2 linked regions of the Homo sapiens genome follow. The protein of the gene in region 1 binds, or shares a complex with, the protein of each later gene. Each region holds a gene or a part of one and is shown on either strand. Other genes may lie near its edges. The genes, in order: FAM181B and TEAD4. A codon is read from its position in the direction of its gene.

The links.
Region 2: the proteins of FAM181B (region 1) and TEAD4 are in contact, whole or in part, in a crystal structure (PDB 6SEO), measured with the Homo sapiens proteins. Residues at the interface, in NP_787081.2 of Homo sapiens: Pro221 (codon at 3,798), Leu222 (codon at 3,795), Arg223 (codon at 3,792), Arg225 (codon at 3,786), Asn226 (codon at 3,783), Leu227 (codon at 3,780), Pro228 (codon at 3,777), Ser230 (codon at 3,771), Phe231 (codon at 3,768), Phe232 (codon at 3,765), Thr233 (codon at 3,762), Glu234 (codon at 3,759), Pro235 (codon at 3,756); in NP_003204.2 of Homo sapiens: Glu263, Ala264, Val265, Asp266, Gln269, Ile270, Asp272, Lys273, Leu295, Lys297, Trp299, Glu391, Val414, Glu416, Val417, Ser418, Ala419, Ser420, Gly423, Gln425, His426, His427, Tyr429.

What each region holds. Positions count from the first base shown.
Region 1 is NC_000011.10:82,729,272-82,740,251, forward strand, and holds FAM181B (protein FAM181B), read right to left. Parts: upstream 4,594-10,980; 5' UTR 4,459-4,593; coding exon 3,178-4,458; 3' UTR 669-3,177; downstream 1-668.
Region 2 is NC_000012.12:2,953,594-2,964,297, reverse strand, and holds the start of TEAD4 (transcriptional enhancer factor TEF-3), read right to left. Parts: upstream 4,902-10,704; 5' UTR 4,817-4,901; intron 4,558-4,816; exon of another isoform or gene 4,351-4,557; 5' UTR 4,258-4,350; exon of another isoform or gene 4,250-4,257; intron 1-4,249. UniProt on the Homo sapiens protein: Transcription factor which plays a key role in the Hippo signaling pathway, a pathway involved in organ size control and tumor suppression by restricting proliferation and promoting apoptosis.

The sequences.
Region 1 (10,980 bases):
CCATGCTTCAATTTGGTTAAGTTACTCGTTCACTGCAGGTAAATCAGCAGAGATGAGATGCACCTAAGTTGATTTAGCCCCTCCCCTTGGCCTTTCTTATTTGTCACCTATAACAATGAAGATAATAACACCGAAGCACAGGCCTCTGTAGGGAACAAAGGAAATAATGTATATGAAAGCACCAAACACCCCACAGACACTTTCTATATACATTTCTCTAGCATAGTGGTTCTCAACTGGCAGTAATTTTTCCTCCCAGGGAGACATGAGGTAATGGGGATATTTTTCTATTGTCACAACTAAGGCAGTGCTACTGGCTTCGAATGGGTAGAGGCCAGGGGTGCTGCTAAACACTCTACAATGCACAGGATAGCTCCCACAGCAAAGAATTATGACACCCAAAATGTCAATAGTGCTGAAGTTGAAAAAACCTGCTAGTACCATAATACAGGGAACTGGAAACCACACACATGTACAAAGCACAGGAGAGCCTGGCAAGTAACAGGCAGGTCTTGGTATTAGGACACTTGTATATTTGGATCTTGGATCCACCACTTGCTGTTGACAAGCTATTTATCTTACCTGAGCCTCAGTTTTCAAATAGGGATAATGACAGTACTGTATTAGTCTGTTCTCACACTGCTATAAAGATACTACCTGAGACTGGGTAATTTATAAATGAAAGAGGTTTAATTGACTCACAGTTCCACATGGCTGGGAGGCCTCATGAAACTTACAATCATGGCAGAAGGTGAAGCAGCAGGAAGGCACGTCTTACATGGTGGCAGGAGAGAGAGATAGCAAGGAAGTGCCACACTTTATAACCATCAGATCTCATGAGAACTCCCTCACTATCACAAGAACAGCATGGAGGAAACCACCCCCATGATCCAATCACCTTCCACTAGGACCTCCCTCGACATGTGGGGATTACAATTAGAGATGACATTTGGCTAGGGACACAGATCCAAACAGTATCAAGCACCTACATCATGGCAATATTAAGAGGCTCAGTGAGTTAGCTTAAATGCCTGGGATGCGGAAACAATGTTGATATTATTATTAATTAAACGTATAGCAAGCAAAACAGTAGGAGAGAGATAACCTGTTTTACTACACTAGGTAAGAAAGGAGAGGAGAATTAAGAAACATTACAATGACACTATAGTCTTAGTAACAGTCACAGGGTTATTAATGTTTTCCTACTGTGCAAGTGTATCCTGGATTGTATTCACAACAGTTTAGACAAATTAAATCGTTATTAAGTAATATTCTGTTAGCACAATGGAATTAATCACCTTTAACCACTTTGGAAGAAATCCAATAGACATTAGCTTTCTGGAGTTGCAAAAGTTCTTTTCATCATTAACAGTACTCGTTCTATTTCCTGTGGTGCTTTCTTAAGAAAGGCTTTATTCAGAAGAAAATGACTTACTGATAGCATTTAAAGTTGCATCTACCATTGGTTAATACTCATTTTTTCCAGAAATTCTTTTATGAAAATATCACAATACTTTTGATGTGTGCAAACATGAACCTGGATTTTTACACCTCTTGCGGTAACACTCGGTTTTCAACTAACTCACATCCAGATATTCCTGCAATCAATCCTGGGTGCCTTGAAGCCAAGCAGCTCTCCTTTGCAGCATCATCAGAAGGCAGCCTCTCACTCAGATGTTCTGGGCGTTGCTCTCTTCATGCCTTTCTCCCCGCAGTTCTACAGCACCAAGGGCTCCTCTTTTCCCTCCAGCTGCTCACTTCCCACCAGTCTTTCCTCCCCTGCCCCTTAACCAACCTATTGGTGCCATGTGTCCTCTCTGCCACATTCATGGCTGGTAAAAATATTTCTTTTTCCCCAAATCTCCCTCGGACAACAGATCATACTCCTCCCTGCAGAGCCCCTTCAGATTCCATTCATCAGACCTGCTATTCAGGGAACAGAAATTCCTTTGGAAACTTCACACCTTTCTTTATGCCCTTCCGTGGGGAGAGTGTGGGTATAAGGACTGAGGAAACAAAGGGAGGCAGAAACCAACAGAGGTGGAAGGGGAGCTGTGGAAGGAGAGAAGGAGGGATGGTAAAGAGGATGTACAGCTTGTAAGGGAAAGGGCAATCACCAGGCAAGTAGATAGCCCCCCGCCAAAAAAGGCATGGGACTCACAACTCTGTTTCCGTGTGTAGAAACCATTTATATATACACAGCAGAACCAATCAAGCACTGCCACAGCCTCAAGACATTTTACTTATTTCCCTCTGAGCTACCCAACCAGTTGTGAAGTGAGTAGAAGAACATTACCGTCTTCACCCTCTCAGATCACGAAAATTGATACAAAGAGGTTACAGTTTGCCCACCCTCTCCCTCCCAAAGTGGCTGGAAAATGGGGAAAAGACAGGAGAGAAATGGAACCCAGGTTTGCCAAATTTAAGTCTCCTACAAAAGAGATGTGCAAGAAAAGCCGGCCGAAAGAAATAGAATAATGAGAGGCCAGGCAAAGAAAGAAGGAAAGTAAGCACTGGGACTGTGATAAGGGTGGAGGGAGATGGAAGCAGGAAGCGGGCAGAAAAAAGAGTTAAACCGTGACAGAAGAGAACCCTACCCAAGGACAAGCACAGGAGGTCAGCAGTGGACCACCGGCCTCCTCCCTCAGCCACAGGCTCACCTAACAAAGCTAAGCGACCAGACGGAAAACCGTCCTGTAAGAAAACACCCAAATCAGTAAGTCTCACCTCCATTCTTTTCAATATAGGCTTTAATTCAAAATGCACTCAAGGAGAGGGAAGGGAGGGACTAGGACACTGTTTAGAAGGGGTAATTACACTAAATACACTGACCTTCGCTGAAAAATAGAAGGGACAGGTGGCTACAGAAGCCAGCTCTTACCCCTTTTGCCGTCCCCACCCCATACCCCAAACCATCTTGGTTTCTTGACTCCTCTGGTCCAGTAAGAACCTACAAACGTGTTTGTTTGTTTTTGTTTTAACACTTGAGGTTGTGATTAAACAATCCCCAACTCGTCTTCATCTCTTTTTTCTGAAGTTGCTTTTATTAATTGAATTTTTAAAAATCTGGTTTCATCTCCACGTGCATTTTCCCATCGTTCTTCAGATTTAGGAGAAACCCACGGAGGCGCGGCGCTCTCCACAGCCGTCTCTAATGAAGGGAAGCGTGCCTCGAAGTCAGTCCCGGTGCGCCCCCTCCTCCCCCGGCGCCCCTTCCCAAACCCCGTCGGATCTCCAAAGGCTGGAATAGGCGGTGCGGCTGTAGCCCGCGCTGTAATCGTAGGACACCTGATGGGGCGGCGGCGGCGGGGGCAGGGCGCAGTCTGGAAAGAAGGGGGCGAAAGAGGCCAAATGGCCCCGCCCGTCCTCCCCGCCGGGAGAATCCGCAGCGGCGGGGTACAGGGGGCTCAAGGGCTCGTTCAAGGTCAAGCCGCCGCGGGGGGCAGTCAGGGGGCTCTTTTTGGTCGGGGAGCAGCCCGGGACGCTCCAGGGCTCGGGGTACAGTAGGTTTCCCACCACTGCCGGCGGCGGCTCAAAGAGGCCGGGCTCCAGCTCCGGGGGTCCCCGCAGTACGGAGGCTCCGGCGGGGAACACGTCGAGAGGCTCGGCGGCAAGCAAGACTGCCGCCTCCGTGCCGGCGCCGTAGTCGGGCCCCAGCAGCTCAAAGAACTCCACGGCCTCCGCGCCCTTCTCCAGGTCGCCCAAGCTCACGTCCGGCCCCGACGGGCCACACCCGCCGCCGCCTGCCCGGGACGGCTCCGTGAAGAAGGACGGAGGCAGATTGCGTGCCCGCAGCGGGACCTTCCTGGCCCCTGGGATCGCCGTGGCCCCCGCGGGGCCTGCCACGTCCCCTCCCGCGCCCCCAGTGCCCGCACCTCCTAGCCCGGCCGCCGGCGCAGCCACCTCACCCCCCGCCGGCTCGGCACCCCCGGGGACGTGGCGCAGCGAGTCGAAGAGCGCGGCCAGACTTCGGCTTTGCAAGCTGGCGGCCGCGGCGGCCTGCGACGCCTCCCGCCGGGGGGCAGCCTTGCCGTGGGCCGGGGCCGCGACTGTCGGGGCGCTAGGGGCGGCCAGCGGCCGTTTGGCTGGCGTGTCGGCGGCGCTCGGGGAGGGCGGGCCGGGGGGCGCGGCGCCCATGAGGCCGCTGCAGCGCTTGATCTGCTTCTGCAGGTACTTGCGGTGGTTCACCTTCCGCTTCGACTTGCCCGGCTTGTCCAGCGCCAGCTTGATGTTGCTGGACGCCGAGTCAATGAAGCTGAGTAGATCGCGGGTGGCCTCGCGCACGTCCCCTCCTTCGGCTCCCGACAGCAGCGCACCCGCCGGAGCCCCGGTCTCATCGTCCTCGAAACAGCAGCCCTTGTCCAGGGCTCCGAAGGCGCCCCCTAGCCCGTCCGGGGAGCCCCCGAAGCCGAAGGGCACGAAAGGGTGCGTGCTGAGGAGCGCCGCCTGCACCGCCATCGCCGCGGCTCCCGGGCTGTCCGCAGCGCTGCCCGTGCGCCCCCGCCAGCTCCTGCCCGCCGCCCAGACCCAGCTCCCGCCCCGGCGCGGCGCGCGCGGCGCAGCCTACTAGTTCCGGGCCTGGCTCGCTGCGCTGCCTCCCGGGGGAGCTCATTAGGTCTTGTAAGCAAGGGGCGGAGGGAGGGAGCGCGCGGCGACCGTCCCGGTGGTAGAGGGGAGGGGCTTACTTAGCCTGGCTTGGAGGAGTGGGGGGTCGCTTTAGTTTTCTGAGCTTTCTGAAGCTCAACGCCTTAACTCCTTCGTTTCCCTTTGCCCCGTGGTGTTTCTCTTGACTCCTCTAACCGCAAGGGGTGAGGAAGAGATGGCTGGTCTCAAACTCCAGTTCAGGCCCATGAGGCCGCTGCAGCGCTTGATAGGCTTCTGCAGGTACTTGCGGTGGTGCCTCTCCTGAGGCAAGAAGGCAGGAGTCTAGAGACGTGGGTTTCAGTCCAGCTGTATAACAACACCCACCAGCTTCTGGGCGCTTGCTTCTGCCAGGCGCTGTCCATCTATTATCTCATTTAATCCTTGAACAACAGCCCTGTGAATTACATGTTATCGCCATTCAACAAACGTGGACACTGCACCTCAGGGAGGTTCAGTGAGTTGGCCAAAGTCAGATCTAGCCCATTCTGACTCCAAAGCCATTCCTAAGCCCTTGACAATACTTGCGTCCTCTCTTGCCCTTGCCTTTCTCATCTATTAAGATGGGGAAGGAAAATGAGTATTTCTTAAAGCTCTAGACCTGATCCTAAGATTCTAACCTGAGTTTTCCCAGGATTCTCAAGCCCAGTGCTCTTTCTTCTTGACTGTTTGCCACTTGATTGTTACGAGTAACAATTGGCTAACAGTAAATTGAGGCCAGCAGTGGCCCATCTTTTATTAACACATAGCAGGAGGCAATGGAGAAAGGAGTCGATCTGGCTAAGCCCCCTGTTACTTGAGAACACTGTGTGTGTATAAAACTCTCAGCATGTTAGAATAAAAGATGGATTGGAACCTCTCCCCTACCTGTCATACCATTTAGGTTATCCCTGGAATTTTCATTGCATTTCAGGGATCATCATGAAGTTCACTTAAAACTAATTTCACCTGGGCAATCCTCTTTGGGATAGATAGAGAAAATGAGCAATAAGGTCATTTTCACAAGAGATTCAGAAGAGGCTTGGGTTCTGGTCTTAGCCACCACTCAATAACCTCATGACTTAGGTTGAAATCCTTGCTCTGCTGAGTGCATGGCTTTAGACAAACCAGCGTACTCTCTCTGTTTAGCTTACTCATGTTAAATGCAGGTAAAGTTGCCCTCCCCACAGGGCACTTGTGATATTTAAATGATACATTGTTCCATAGCCTGGATGAGTATTCACCCTTACTTCTCTGAAACACAAAAAGGTGACTATATCCCTTACGTGTCTTCTGGATCATAGGGTGTTCATGAGCATTAAGTGAGATCATAGATGCTTCTCAATTTGTGATAGAGCAACAACATCCTGATAAACACATTGTAAGTTGAAAATATTGTAGGTTAAAATGCATGTAATACACTGATTCAAGTTGGAAAATCATAAAGTTGAACCATCATAAGTTGGGGACTGTCTCTATATGAAAACACTGTGTGTGTGATAAAGTGTTCTCTAAATAAGTTACTCTAGTTTCGATACAGAGCTTGCATAGGAGAGACATAGACCATCTCTTTCAAAACTCTTTTTATTAAGCCTCACTTTGTAGATGTAGCGAAACCATTTTTGAACACCATGAAGGCACAGCCTTACCAAAGAAAAAAGGCCAGATGGGCCATCAGAGAAATACAAATCAAAACCGCAATGAGATACCATCTCACACCAGTTAGAATGACGATCATTAAAAAGTCAGGAAACAACAGGTGCTGGAGAGCATGTGGAGAAATAGGAACACTTTTATACTGTTGGTGGGACTGTAAACTAGTTCAACCATTGTGGAAGACAGTGTGGCGATTCCTCAAGGATCTAGAACTAGAAATACCATTTGAACCAGCCATCCCATTACTGGGTATATACCCAAAGTATTATAAATCTTGCTGCTATAAAGACACGTGCACACGTATGTTTATTGTGGCACATAGCAAAGACTATTATTCACATAGCAAAGACTTGGGACCAACCCAAATGTCTATCAGTGATACACTGGATTAAGAAAATGTGGCACATATACACCATAGAATACTATGCAGCCATAAAAAAGGATGACTTCATGTCTTTTGTAGGGACATGGATGAAGCTGGAAACCATCATTCTGAGCAAACTATCGCAAGGACAGAAAACCAAACACTGCACAGGTGGGAAATGAACAATGAGAACACTTGGACACAGGGTGGGGAACATCACACACCGGGGCCTGTCGTGGGGTGGGGGGATGGGGGAGGGATAGCGTCAGGAGATATACCTAATGTAAATGACAAGTTAATGGGTGCAGCACACCAACATGGCACATGTATACATACGTAACAAACCTGCACATTGTGCACATGTACCCTAGAACTTAAAGTATAATAAAAAAGAAAGAAAGAAAAAAGGCCAGATGAACATTTTTCATTTAGAAGATGAAGTAGCCACTTCCCAAACCCACATAGCTGAGCCAAACTTTTTATTTTAAATTCAAATTGGCTCAATTATCATGGACTTTTCATTTGAGTTACACACAGCATTTTGTCCTCCATGGCCGAACTGTCTGTTTTACTCTTGGTGGTATTCACATTCAGAAAATTGTGCAGACCTGTCACTGATTTGTGCTTCTTCCACTCCAGATGTGGATGTCAGCACTGCCCATCCCCTTTCCAACAGGGCCATTCCATAGGCTTCCAGGTCTGGCAGCCAAAAGCACTAACTTTTTTTTTTTTTCACCTTCTGTCAACTGAGCACTCTTACAAGTCCTTGGACACCAATTGCACAGTACTCTACATTTAATCGACATCTTATTCCGAAAAAACTCTTAATCCCCAGGGTTATCTAAATCCTAAAATCATATTCAAAATAAATGGAATATGAAAAGCTTCATATGTAAAAGTCTTTCTTCATTTCTATTGGAGTTCTGCACATCAAAGTTGATTTGAAGTTAGATGAGGCCAGGTTCAAATTCTGGCCCTGCCTATTGCTATTGAACTGCTTGGACAAGTCAGTTCATATTCCAAAGGCTCAAACTCCTTATCTGAAAAAAGGGAATGGTCATAATTGTTCTCAGGGTGAGAATTACATGACATAACAGGCAAGTAATGCCTCTGAATCTTACTTTTCTCACCTGCACAGTGGAGATAATCTCAACTCCTCAAGGTTGTTGTGAGATGGTATATATAAAAGCACCTCACACAAAATAGCAGTTCAACAAATGTCCATGTTCTTGATTCCTTAGGCCCCACCCATTCCTTACCAACACATTACCCTATGAAACCAGCATCATTTGTCCTTTCCCTCAGCAAAGTGAGTGACTATTTTCAAATGCAAGAGAGTAGCTATACTTGGGGGTTGTAGAAACTTACAAAAAGACAATGAAATACAGGAGAGAGAGTGCTAAAACTGGAGCCGGAGACTGACACTGGAGTCCAGTCCTGCCTTTATTATCTGACTGCCTATGGAAAAGTCACTTAACCTTCAGGACCTCGATGTTCCCATCCATAAATGGGGAATAATAACATAATCCTATTTGATAGGGCTATTGTGAAAATCAATAAGATAATGGAAATTGAAGTTTTTGTAAACCATGGAGCTGAAATTCATGGCTTAGAAGTTCTATAGCCTGATTCACAAAATTGATCCTTACAAATAAATATCCATCCAGTCACTGATTTTTTCCAACAGAAAGATATTGACACCCACAATGTGCTCAGCGCTATGCTAGTACTGGGGATACAGAGATAAGAAGCCATGATTTCTACCCTTTGGGTGGAAAGACAAATATGCAAACAAGCCATTGTAATATAATGTGATACATGTCCAATGGAAGTAAAAGGACCCTCAAGTCTGCCCACAGGAGTTGGAGAAGGCTGCATAGACATGCAGCATTTGAGCTAAGACTTAAATGATATATCTGACTGTGTAAAGCAAACACACAATATCTGTGGCAGAGAGAACAGCCTGGGCAGAGGCATGGCTAAATGAAAGCAGTGGTGTTTATGGGAAAATGTAGGCAATAGGGCAACAAAGAACAGCTTCTGCTTGAAGTAATTCTATACCTGAGACCAAAATAAATCCTTAGAGCTTCCACTGTCCAACTAAATTGTACATATAGACCCAGCCTCAAGGCCTTGGCTGCTTTTTCCCTTGATCTCCTTTCCTTTGAGGAAGAGCTCTATCTGGAATGAAATTGGTTTCAGTAAAGTTAGTAGCCAGCTCTAGCCAAGCCCATCAGTCCCTCCTCCTACTCCCTGAGTGAGCACATTCATTTGAGTGGCTTTGACATCAATACATTTCACTTCCTATGGAGCAGAGGGACCCGGCTCCAGCCTGCAGTAGGGGCTCTCTGCAGAACTCCAAACTAGAGCTCTTTCACCCCAGTGACGCTTAATGCTGTGCAAGTGGGATTAGTCTCCTTGGGAACCAAGTCCCCCAGGGGCTCAAGGGCTGAACTCGCCCCAAACCGTTTGGGAGAATTGAGATTTCATATTGTTCTTTTACACTTGGATTTCAGGACATTACTTAGACAAAAGCCCACCTGAGAGCTGCCTCCTTTCTTGTGGGTAAATATAGCAGCAGGATCAAAAGCTGACTTATTTATTTTGTTTTCGTCTTTTGTAACTTTAATCATATTCCCTGCAGGACAATCTTAGCCCTCAGAGATGTCAGGAATGTACATTCATAATGAAAGAAATAATTATGCATCTGTTTTTCTCTCCCTTCCCAAACCAATTTCCTGTCATTCATTATTTTTTAAATCTCGAATAAAGCAAATTAATTCCTGAATTTTACCACATGACTTATAAAGTATCATTATCATCATCACAATAGAGTGTTACCTTACAAATTGTGCACCCTCACAAATGTCTCTTGTTTTCTTTCTTATCGTTTTCCCCTGCAAACCAGATTCTACTAACACTAGATTTTAATTTATGTCTTAAAATATTAGATGTTATTCTGGTTATCTATAGTTATATAACAAATTACTCCAAAACTTAGTGGCTTAAATCAACAACCATTTTATTACATCTCACAATAATATGGGTAAGAAATTTGAGGAAGAGCTGGCTAGGTGATCCTCCTGGTTCATGTGACGTTGACAATGGCTGGCCTGGAGGATTCAACATGGCATCATTCACATGACTGCACCTGCACCTACACATACTGGCCTCTCCAGTATGTTGGTCTAAGAGTACTCAGACTTCTTATGTGGAGCTTCAGGAATACTGGAGGCAGCGCTGCAAGAGGCCCATGTGGCACCTGCCAGGCTTCTTATGACCTAGCCCAAGAATTCCCAGAATGTCACTTTCACAACTTCCTATCGGTCAGGCAAGTCATTAAGGCCAGCTCAGATTCAAAGGAAGGGAAATTAGAATTTACCCCTTAATGGAAGAAAAGACAAAGAATTTGTTTGGTATGTCTCTTAAATCTCTTTTAATATATAACCACATACACTTACTGTTTTGTTTTCTTTGTGATTTGTTTGTTGAAGAAACTGCATCTTTATCTTGTCAACTTTCCCACATTCTGTACTTGGTTGGTTGCATCTGTCTCTACGATGCCACCTAACATGTTTCTATGGTCCATGTGTTTCCTGTAAATGAGAAATAGTTGTAGAGGCTTGATCAGATTCATATTCTTTTTTATGCTGTTTTATATATGTGCTACAATATGTGCAATAGTTTTGGAATAACAATGCCAATATTCTTACAAACAACACAACTACTACAAACAGTTTAATTCCTTTTTCTTTGTCATTCACATTTTTTGTCTTCAAAACCTATCCCAATAGGGATGAACAGTCCAGTTACTATGTTTCAAATTCACTTTAAAAACCTGTCTCTGGTTGGCCAGGCATGGTGGCTCACGCCTGTAATCCCAGCACTTTGGGAGGCCGAGGGGGGTAGATCATGAGGTCAGGAGTTCGAGACCTGCCTGGCCAACATAGTGAAACCCTGTCTCTACTAAAAATACAAAAAATTAGCTGGGAGTGGCGGCGCACGCCTATAGTCCCAGCTACTTGGGAGGCTGAGGCAGGAGAATCGCTTGAACTCGGGAGGCAGAGGCTGCAGTGAGCCGAGATCGTGCCACTGCACTCCAGCCTGGGCAGCAGAGCAAGACTCCATCAAAAAATAAAAAACAAAACTATCTCTTGTTATGCCACCCCCTCAATGCACAATCAGATTCACTTGTTTTACTTTGCTTTGTATGAAAATAGCTTTATAAATCTTTAATTTTGTTTTATAATTTTTCTACAGTTTACATGGTTTCAAAGTCAAAACTGTGTCACAAGATATATTCAGGAAGGGCTAACCTCTATCATAGTTACCTCCACAAT
Region 2 (10,704 bases), on another chromosome or scaffold:
GCCAGGATGATTCGCAAAGACATCTCAGGGGCTTGAGGGGAAGGGGAAGACCAAGTCCTGGCAGGGGCGAGCGTGGCACGAGCGGAGGCTGGCAAACACGAGCCCTGTGCTAGTAAGAGCCGAAAGCTCAGCACAGAACCGGCACGGAGCTCTAGCTTCACACTGAGTCAACGGCCCCCTTTGGAGGAGGGCCCCACCCCAGAGGCCCACCCTATGTGTCATCAGCCCCTCCCCAGCGCCCTCTGCACTGCCCCCAACCCTCTACCGGATATGCAATCCCATCCCCCAGGAGGGTCACCCCTGGCTCTGCACAGTTCCCATTTCCTGCCCCTGGTGACTCCTCTGAAGTCTATTGTTCCCATGAAGTTTGGGTCAAAGGAAGCAGAGTCCCCACCCATGGGGGCCCGCCTGCCCACACCAAGCCAAGGAGCCAGCCCCCGCTACAGGGAGCCTGGCCCATCCTCTGGCCCTTCCAGGAGCCCCCCTGTATTAAATGCAGGAGGACGTGGGCATAGATCTTGGAGACCTGAGTTCTAGTGGAAATTTTCCCAAATATCCAGTCCCCACCAGCTAAGGGCCCCAGGGCCAGATCACACAGGTGTGATTAGAATCTCCCAGATAGTAGCGGGAAAAACCAAAAGCAAGGGAAGAACCGTCATCTCAGAAAGCGTCCAGGCAAAAGTGGAATTAGAAGATAGGAGCTGGAGACCGTGTTCTCCCCAGTGACAAAGCCCTGCCCCCACCTCCACCTGGGCCCTCCTGGCTGCTGACAGCCCCCTCACCCCCCTTTACTGGACAGCAGCTGTTCAGCTCCAATTTCAGAGCTTTAAAGGGAGCTGTCGTCCAACCCCGGCCAACAAAGGGTCATGGGGGCAAAGGAAGACAGGCAAGGTAAAGCCACCCTCACAAGCCCTGAATTTCCAACTGCCACTGGACTGACCTCAACTGCAGGAAAGGCAAGGTCCAAAGCTGGGGACCAACGTCCTCCACTTCCACTGGGAAGGAGAAGGAGGAGCCACAGGTTTGGCAACAGGCATTGCTTTGTGACAGTCACCGGGGCAAGACTCCAGAGTGGAAATCAAAGGAGGTTGTGACATTTGCAACCCAGGAGATCTAAAAAGATAGGGAGAACCTTCACCTGCCGGCTCATCAAGGGGAGAGGAGGGTGTGTTTTAAAGACCCGAGGGCCCCTTCCCGACTCCACAGATTCTACAGTGAGATGGCTCCTTCCCCAGAACAGCTATGTGCTTTCTGCCAGGTCGGAGCAGAGTATTTCTGCCTCCTACCAACCTTATCTGAGCGACAAGGCATGGCCCAAGTCAGTCTGCTCCAGCTTCCGCGCCTGTTGGATGAAGGCGGCTAGGGGGAGTAGGGGGTGTACAAGCACTGCAATCCACAGGGCAGGAGACAGAACGCCAAGGGGAGAGCATAGGTTCTAATCCCTGCTCTGCCACTCACCAGGGTTGCGGCATTAAGCAAGTTACTGTCCCTCTAGGAGCATCAGTTTCCCCATCTTTAAAATGGGAGACTTAGGCCAGGCGCAGTGGCTCACGCCTGTAATCCCAGCACTTTGGGAGGCCGAGGCGGATCACCTGAGGTCAGGAGTTCAAGACCAGCATGGCAAACATGGCGAAATCCCGCCTCTACTAAAAATACAAAAAACGGCTGGGAGTGGTGGCTCATGCCTATAATCTCAGCACTTTAGGAGGCCAAGGTGGGCAGATCACCTGAGGTTGGGAGTTGGAGACCAGCCTGACCAACATGGAGAAACTCCGTCTCCACTAAAAATACAAAATTAGTGGGGCACGGTGGCGCACGCCTATAATTCTAGCTACTTGGGAGGCTGAGGCAGGAGAATCGCTTGAACCCGGGAGGCAGAGGTTGTGGTGAGCCGAGATCGCACCATCGCACTCCAGCCTAGGCAACAAGAGCGAAACTCCATCTCAAAAAATATATATATATATTTATATTTATATATATATTTATATATTTATATTTATATATATAAATAAATATATATAAATATATATATATGAAACTAGCCGGCCGGGAGGCTGAGGCAGGAGAATCGCTTGAACCCAGGAGGCGGAGGTTGCAGTGAGCCAAGATCATGCCACTGTACTACTGCCTAGGCGACAGAGCGAGACTCCGTCTCAAAAATAAATAAAATAAAATAAAATAAAAATAAAGTAAAATAAAATAAAATGGGGGACTTAGATGCTGACATTAGGGTATCTAATAATGTTCAGCAAGCTCACCCTGGGGCCAAGGCAAAACTGGAATCAGAAAATAGAAGCTGGCACTCTGTTCTCTGGTGACAAAGCCCTGTCTGTCCCCCTCCCTCCTGACCTGGGCCACTAGGACCCTGGATTCCTAAGGACGCGGAACACAGCGTAGGGCCTGGCTCACAGTAAATGCTCGATTCATGTTTGCTAAATAAACATGATAGACAGGGCAAGGTTTCTCAAATGGTGCTCAGAGAAACACTAATTCAAAAAACACTAATCCCTAGGAAAAAGGGGTTCTTACTGAAATAAGCGAAGGAAACACTGGATACAACAGCTATCCTATGGAGTCCATGGGATGTGCCAGGCACTGTGCTGCTGGGTGGGGGCTCTGCAGACATCGACTTTTCACAAGAAACTTTCTGGACAGAAAAGCTCCGCTCGTATTACCCACCAGGAAACAGCCTGAGAGCCTTAAAGGTAGTGAGAGACTCAGGATTTGTACCCTGGTCTGCCTGACCCCAAACCTGTGCCCTTTCCACTCCATCAGTGCTGCTTTTAGACCAGTCGCACACCAGGCCGAAGAGGTGAGAGGGTGAGGTGTTTCCCACAAGAACATCCACATCCTCAGGATGGATGGAGGAGCAAGGACGAGAACCCCCAACCCCCGAGACAGTTTCTGGCTCCTTCCTTCCAAGAAGCCCTACACATGATATCCACGTTGAAGCCCTCATGCAACAAGCTACTCATTCCTCTTCTCAAAGGAAGTGCTGAGTGTCTGGCAAGTTGGAAAGAATGAGGGATTCTTCTACTGGGTTACCTGGTCAGCTCCGAGGAGAGTTAAACCAGGAAAAGTAGTTCAGGCTGGTATACCTCCCTGTTTGTCCTTGAGGGCAACTTAAAAGCACTATTTACACAAGTCTCCAGATTCAAAACTGTCTCCTTTTCCCGGGGATCCACCCCGACAAACCTTCCCAAATCTCACCCGCCCATCCCATCCCCCAAAGGCAAAGATCTCAACTTCCTTCAGCCTCCTACCAGCTTTTTGACCTATTCCAGGCAAGCACAAGACCCTCGCCCTGAGAAAGTCAGCCTCCTGGCTCCAAGAGGCAGGTGGAGCCAGCTTCCTTCCAGCTCTGCCCGGTCCAGGGGAAACGGAGCCTGGAGGCCACACACTCCAAAACCACAGTCAAATTATCCCTGCACTCAGGCAACCAGAGACACTGACTCTTGCCCACGGCTATGTAGGGAGGAAGAACAGTCCTAGCCAGAACCAACATCCTCGAAGAGAAACACATACTCAAGAGACGTGGCATCACACACCTACTCAGAGATACTCACTTTCAGACAGCCCCTTCTCACGCAGACATATACACACACTCTGTCACTCACGTTCAACACAAACAAATACGCCCACTGGAAGCCAAGGTGAGCCACACGTGAACAGACATCACCCACACAGAGACTCAAAGCGAGGGGGACTCGCAGTCAGGTGTCACACAGACTCAGCACAGACGCAGTCAGTCCGCGGGGCCTCAAGTGCCTCAGCACAACGGGGGAAATGTTCACTTTGGGGTTTGAAAGTTCTGCTCCCTGGATCGATCCACTAGTCCCCATCAGGAAACACAGCAGCTTCCCAAGCCCTGAGGTGTAGGACCTTTTGCAGGGGTCCCCCGACTTTCGCATCGCCTTTGCACTTAAAACAGGCAGTCCGCTTACCTCCAGGTCTCTCCCTTCCAGGCTCGAAAAGGGCCCAGCAGAAAAGAGGCATGGGTGCTGGGTCTCTTCTGTTGCCGATGCTCTCGGTTCTGCCTCTCCGGTCCTTTCCACACCGGCCTCCCTTTCCCCCAAAGTCCCGAGTGTCCACCCCCCTTACCCGCCCCTGGAGCCGCTTCGCCTCCAGCAGCCTCAGTCGCGCCGCCTCCACGTGCCTCGCTCTTCCCAGTCTCGTCCCGGGAGGGAGCTCCGCACGCACCGCGCAGACTCCTGCCCTCCGGCAAAGTCCTACCAAGTCCCCGCGCCCCAGCCTTACCGGTCCCAGGGTGCGGGAAGGTGGGATGGGTGCGCTAAGCCAGTTCCAAGGAGTCCGCCCCGAGCGCCAACTCTTCCGGCCGCGGCGATCGTTCTGCGGGGACGACAGGGCGTCAGCGCGCAGAGCCGGGCTCCGGCCGGGGCCGACGGGCGGCGCAGTGAAGGCGGGGCCGCGGGGCCAAGCCCACCCCGCGCCGACCGGCCCCGGTGCGCCCAGCGGAGCGGAGCGGAGCGCGCGGAGGGAGGAGTTTTCCCAGAATGGGACTGACGGGAAAACACGGGGATCCCTATTCCTGGAGGAGTGAGTCAACCGGGAGCGAGGAGGGGAGCGCGGGGCGGACAGGAGGGAAGCGGGAGAGGGGCAGCGAGCAGCGCCGGAGCGCGGAGGGAAGCCAGAGGTCGGGACGGAGCGCGTCGGAGCGCAGAGGTCCAAGGCGGGAACGCGGGCGGCGGAAAGAAAAGAGCAGCCGAGCACGCGGCGCGAGCGGTCGGCTGCGGCGGCGTGGGGCGCGCGGCCCGTGAGGGCGCCGGCGGGTGCGGCGGGCGCGGGCGCCTCTCACCTGGCGGGACGCGGCGGCGCCGGAGCTGCGGCCCTCCCGCCCCCTGGCCTCGAGTGTGCGAGGAGGACGCTGGAATGCGCGGAATGAGGGCTGGAATGAGATGCGCGCCGCGGCGGGAGGGAGGGAGCCGGAGGGAGTGGCGGCGGGGCCACCGGCACCTCGGGGAGGAGACTGCGCCGCGCGCGGGCGGGCGAGGGGCCGGGCCGCCGGGGCGGGGCGGGGCCGGGCCGGGCCGGGGCGGGCGGCGGGGGAGGGGGCCGAGGGACGGCGGGGACCCCTCCACCCGGGCCTCGGCTGCGGCCCCCACGCCCACTAGCCCTTCGATCTCTCCGCTCCGACTGTTTGGCTGCTCGTTGCGCGCCCCGCGCCCTCCCCTCCTGGCGGGGTCCCGACTCCCTTTCCCAGGAGCCGAGAGCCTTCCTCTTCGCCGGGGTGGGGCTGTCCCGGGGGCGGGGGGGTGGACGGGGCCCAGACTCCCGCCCCGCCACCCGGCGTCCCTCCGCACGAGTCCCTGGGAGGCCGGGGAAGGGGCGGGCTCCCGGCGCGCAGGAAGGGCTGCTCCCTTCCTGCGGCTCCCACCAAAGGACACTTGCTCCGGGGAACCAGGAAGCAGGAACTCGCGGGCTCCATTCCCAGATCCGCTGCCAGTGCCCCCTCGCTTGCCCTCCCCGGCTTTAGCTCTTTCCGTTTTTCTCTCCTGCCCCTTGGGCATCTGTAAAACCGCCACTACGAGTAAACCACATGGGAGAAAGGGCACTCGGTTTGAAGTCCATGTGGCATGCCATGGGACGCCTTCTGGGCTCAGTGACTCAATGAATATTCATCTAAGATGTGTGATGAGTCCAGATACTGTGAAGATCAGGATCAGCCGTCAGCACCTGCCCTCAAAGAGCTCAGAGTTTAGCTGGGGAGGCCTCGGTGTATACTGCCATCGGTGAGAGTCTGGACTTCAGACACACATGCCCAGGAGTCTCTTATTGGGGCAGGAGGTGCTGGAAACACGCTGGGCTCCTTGTTTGGAGACGCTTAGGACAAACGGGCTTAAAGCAGTGTGCTGGCAGGTAGCGCCATCATCTACCTGGCCAGGAGACTGAAACCAAAGGACTTTTGGCTTTTTCCAAAAATCAAATCCAACCTTTTCTGGGGCATTATCACTTAGCCTTGTGTTGGGTGGTTGTCTAGATCTTATCTCCCTTGCCAAACAGAAACTTCCTTGAAGACAGAGTAATGTCTGATTTATCTTATCTTTCACACAGATCCAGCCTGGTGCCTGGGATAGGGAAGTGCATGATAAATGCTGCATAAATGAAAAACAATTGCTACCGTGGAAGATATTGAAAGGAAAGTGCTATCGATGCCAAAGTTGTTTCCAAGAGAGGTATTCCAAAAGTGTTTCAAGCAATGACTGAGCTAAGCATCCAGTCCTGCAAGGTGAAGGCGTTGAAGACGCAGCCCTCATTTGAATAGATGAATTGTGGTATTCTTGTTAAATAATGAATCATATCAAGGCTTGGTCACACCTCATGCACATGAAAAGACCAAAACGCAAGGCAGCATATCAGCGCCACGTGAAGTACACACTAAGCACCAACTATTTAATTCAGCAATCATGGGGGGCCCGGTGGCTCACGCCTGTCATCTTAGCAATTTGGGAGGCCGAGGCAGGTGGATCGCTTGAGCCCAGGAGTTCGAGATCAGCCTGGGCATCATGGTGGCCTGCACCTGTAGTCCCAGCTACTCAGGAGGCTGAGGTGGGAGGATAGTTTGACCCCAGAAAGTTGAGGCTGCAGTGAGCCGTGAATGCACCACTACACACCAGCCTGGATGACAGAGCGAAACCCTGTCTCAAAGTAATTAATAATAATTATATTAATTCAGCAATCATTGGAGTGTTTGTTGACTTTGACACCGCACTAAGGGAAGGAGTAGGTCCCTTTCCTCAAGTAGTTCCAGTCTAGGTGAGAAGACAGACAATTATGCAAAGTTCAATGGGAACCCAAGGGAAGGAACAGTGAAATCCAATTACAGTGCATTTGATCTAGCTCTTGAGGATAAATGAGGGTTTGCCAAACTGAGACTGGAAACCCCATTTAAGACACATGGAATAGCACCTACAAAGGTGAGGCAGCCAGTCTGCTGGTGTGTTTAGCGAAGCTATGTAAACTGGTGTGGCTGGAGAATAGAGATGTGGATAATAAGATTGAAGGAAGTGGATACCAGACTTTGAAGGTCATTGCGTGCCATGCTGAAGAGTTAGGCATCAAAAAAGACACAAGTGTGACTTAATCAGCAGCACCATCAAGAAGACCGTCTTGCAACAGTCTTGCAGTTGAACTGGAGACTCGGGGTGCCCTAAAACTCAAGCAGTGGTCCTGAGGTTGAGGAGGAGGGGAAGGAGCTAGGAAACGGTTCAGATCATTTGGCTGTGTAGTGAGAGAGAAAACAAAAATCGCTAACCTTTAACAGCTGAACAATGGTTGGTGTCAGTAAGTGAGATAAGAATTCAGGGCTGGGCACAGTGGCTCATACCTGTAATCCCAGCACTTTGGGAGGCTGAGGTGGGTGGATCACGAGGTCAGGAGTTCCAGACCAGCCTGACCAACATGGAGAAACCCCATCTCTACTAAAAATACAATATTAGCTGGGCGTGGTGGTGCATGCCTGTAATCCCAGCTACTCGGGAGGCTGAGGCAGGAGAATCACTTGAACCCAGGAGGTGGAGGTTGCAGTGAGCTGAGATCACGACATTGCACTGCAGCCTGGGCAAAAAGAATGAAACTCCGTCTCAAAAAAAAAAAAAAGAAAGAAAGAAATTCAAGCAAAAGGGGAGTGGGGTGAGGTCGGAGGGGAATCCAGCCAGGTTCAGGGGACGGAGAGGAAAGCAGGACAGAGTCCAGAGTAGAAACAGGAAAGCAACCCTAGTGTCACGGTTAGGGTAGACTGCTGACAACGAACTTGGAGATCTTTATTCCCTCTAAGTCTTAACTATCCAAGACCATCAGTGATCCAAGCTGGGAAGGTGTGTCTTCAGGATCTTGACTTTCTGGCCCATACCCTTATAGTCTCCTGGAGAGCTCTGGAGCTTTGGGGACCTCAGGCTTGGAGCTGTTGAGGAATGTCTAGGTAAAGGAAAGTTAACAGATGTACAAATTCTGAAGAGTTAAAGGCAAGGTGATTTTACCCACACATCAGCCCTTCCCAGGGATGTTTACATTTCTTAAGGGACAGGACCCTAATTCACTGACCCTCAGGAATGAGTCTTTTGGTGGAAATATTTCAGCTGTCTGGATCCTACAAATGGATCCTCACTCAAGCTTGATGATGGACTGTGCAGGAGGAGGAGAGTAAGGGTGTGGGCAGGGCTGGGTGGTTTCATGTAGGGGTATTTGTGTTGGCTATATTCCAAAGTCAAAGTTAAAAATCAATTAATTGGGCACAGTGGCTCACATCAGTAATCCCAGTACTTTGGGAGGCCGAGGTTGGAGGATCTCTTCAGCCCAGGAGTTTGAGACCAGCCTGAGCAATATAATGAGACCTTACCTCTACCAAATAAATAAATAAATAAAAATTAGCTGGGCATAGTAGCACACACCTCTGGTCCCAGCTACTTGGGAGGCTGAAGTGGGAGGCTTGTTTGAGCTCGGGAGGTCAAGGCTGCAGTGAGTCGTGACCTCGCCACTGCATTCCAGCCTGGGCGACAGAGCAAGACGTTGTCTCAGAAAAAATAAATAAAATAATATAAAATAAACCAGACACATTCATGATATAAGTGGAAAAGCAGATTCTAAAAATTATATATAGGGGCTGGGCATGGTGGCTCACACCTGTAATTCCAGCACTTTGGGAGGCTGAGACAGGCGGATCACCTGAGGTCAGGAGTTCGAGACCAGCCTTGCCAACATGGTGAAACCCCATCTCTACTAAAAATACAAAAAATTAGCCAGGCGCGATGGCACGCGCCTTTAGTCCCAGCAACTTGGGAGGCTGAGGCAGGAGAATCACTTGAACACAGGAGGTGGAGGTGGCAGTGAGCCTAAATCGCACCGTTGCACTCCAGCCTGGGCAGCAAGAGTGAAACTCCATTTCAAAAAATAAATAAATAGCTGGGCGTGGTGGCTGACACCTGTAATCCCAGCACTTTGGGAGGCTGAGGCGGGCGGATCACCTGAGGTTGAGAGTTCGAGACCAGCCTGACCAACGTGGAGAAACCCCGTCTCTACTAAAAATAGAAAATTAGCCGGGCGTGGTGGCGCATGCCTGTAATCCCAGCTACTCAGGAGGCTGAGACAGGAGAATTGCTTGAACGCTGGAGGCAGAGGTTGCGGTGAGCAGAGATTGCGCCATTGCACTCTAGCCTGGGCAGCAAGAGCGAAACTCCGTCTCCAAAAAATAAAATAAAATAAATAAATAAATAAAAACTATATATCAGATGACCCTGTTTTTGAAAAAAGTTGAAAAAGTATTTTAAAGGGATTATTTCTGAAAGTTTGCAAATTAAGGGGATCTAGTTTCTTGTTTTTATTCTTTTTTTTTTTTTTTTTAAGACAGAATTTTGCTTTCGTCGCCCAGGCTGGAGTGCAATGGCACAATCTTGGCTCACTGCAACGTGCGCCTCCCAGGTTCAAGCAATTCTCCTGCCTCAGCCTCCCCAGTAGCTGGGATTACAGGCATGCACCACTGCACCCAGCCCTATTCTTTCTTTTCTTTTCTTTTTTTTTTGAGACGGAGTCTCGCTCTGCTGCCCCGGCTGGAGTGCAGTGACGCCATCTCGGCTCACTGCAAGCTCTGCCTACTGGGTTCACGCCATTCTCCTGCCTCAGCCTCCTGAGTAGCTGGGACTACAGGCGCCCGCCACAACGCCGGGCTGATTTTTTGTATTTTTTAGTAGAGACGGGGTTTCATCTTGTTAGCCAGGATGGTCTCAATCTCCTGACCTCGTGATCCACCCGCCTCGGCCTCCCAAAGTGCTGGGATTACAGGCGTGAGCCACAGCGCCCGGCCTCCTATTCTTTATTTTCTGTAACAAACTTGTAGTTTATAATCAGGGACAAATGTGACTAGAACTATATATCTAACCCTTCCCTAATTTCTCCACATCTTTAAAAAACAAAACCCTTTACACATATGAAAATATCACATTGTGGTGCTTGCCTGGGCAGCACATATACTAAAATTGGATACTGATACAGAGAAGATTAGCATGGCCCCGAGCTCACAAATTCGTGAAGTCTTCCATTAAAAAAAAAAAAAAAAAAAAAAGGCCAGGCGCGGTGGCTCACGCCTGTAATCCCAGTACTTTGGGAGGCCAAGGCGGGCGGATCACGAGGTCAGGAGATCGAGACTATCCTGGCTAACACGGTGAAACCCCGTCTCTACTAAAAATACAAAAAATTAGCCGGGCGTGGTGGCAGGCGCCTGTGGTCCCAGCTACTCGGGAGGCTGAGACAGGAGAATGGTGTGAACCCGGGAGGCGGAGCTTGCAGTGAGCCGAGATGGCACCACTGCAGTCCGGCCTGGGCAACAGAGTGAGACTCCATCTCAAAAAAAAAAAAAAAAGGCTGGGCGTGGTGGCACACGCCTGTAATCCTAGCACTTTGGGAGGCTGAGGCAGGCGGATGACGAGGTAAGAGATCAAGACCATCCTGGCCAACATGGTGAAACCCCGTCTCTACTAAAAATACAAAAATTAGCTGGGCGTGGTGGCACGCACCTGTATTCCCAGGTACTTGGAAGGCTGAGGCAGGAGAATCGCTTGAACCTGGGAGGCGGAGGTTGCAGTGAGCCGAGATCACACCACTGCACTACAGCCCTGGCGACAGAGCAAGGCTCCGTCTCAAAAAAAAAAAATGTGGCCAGGCACGGTGGCTCAAGTCTGTAATCCTAGCACT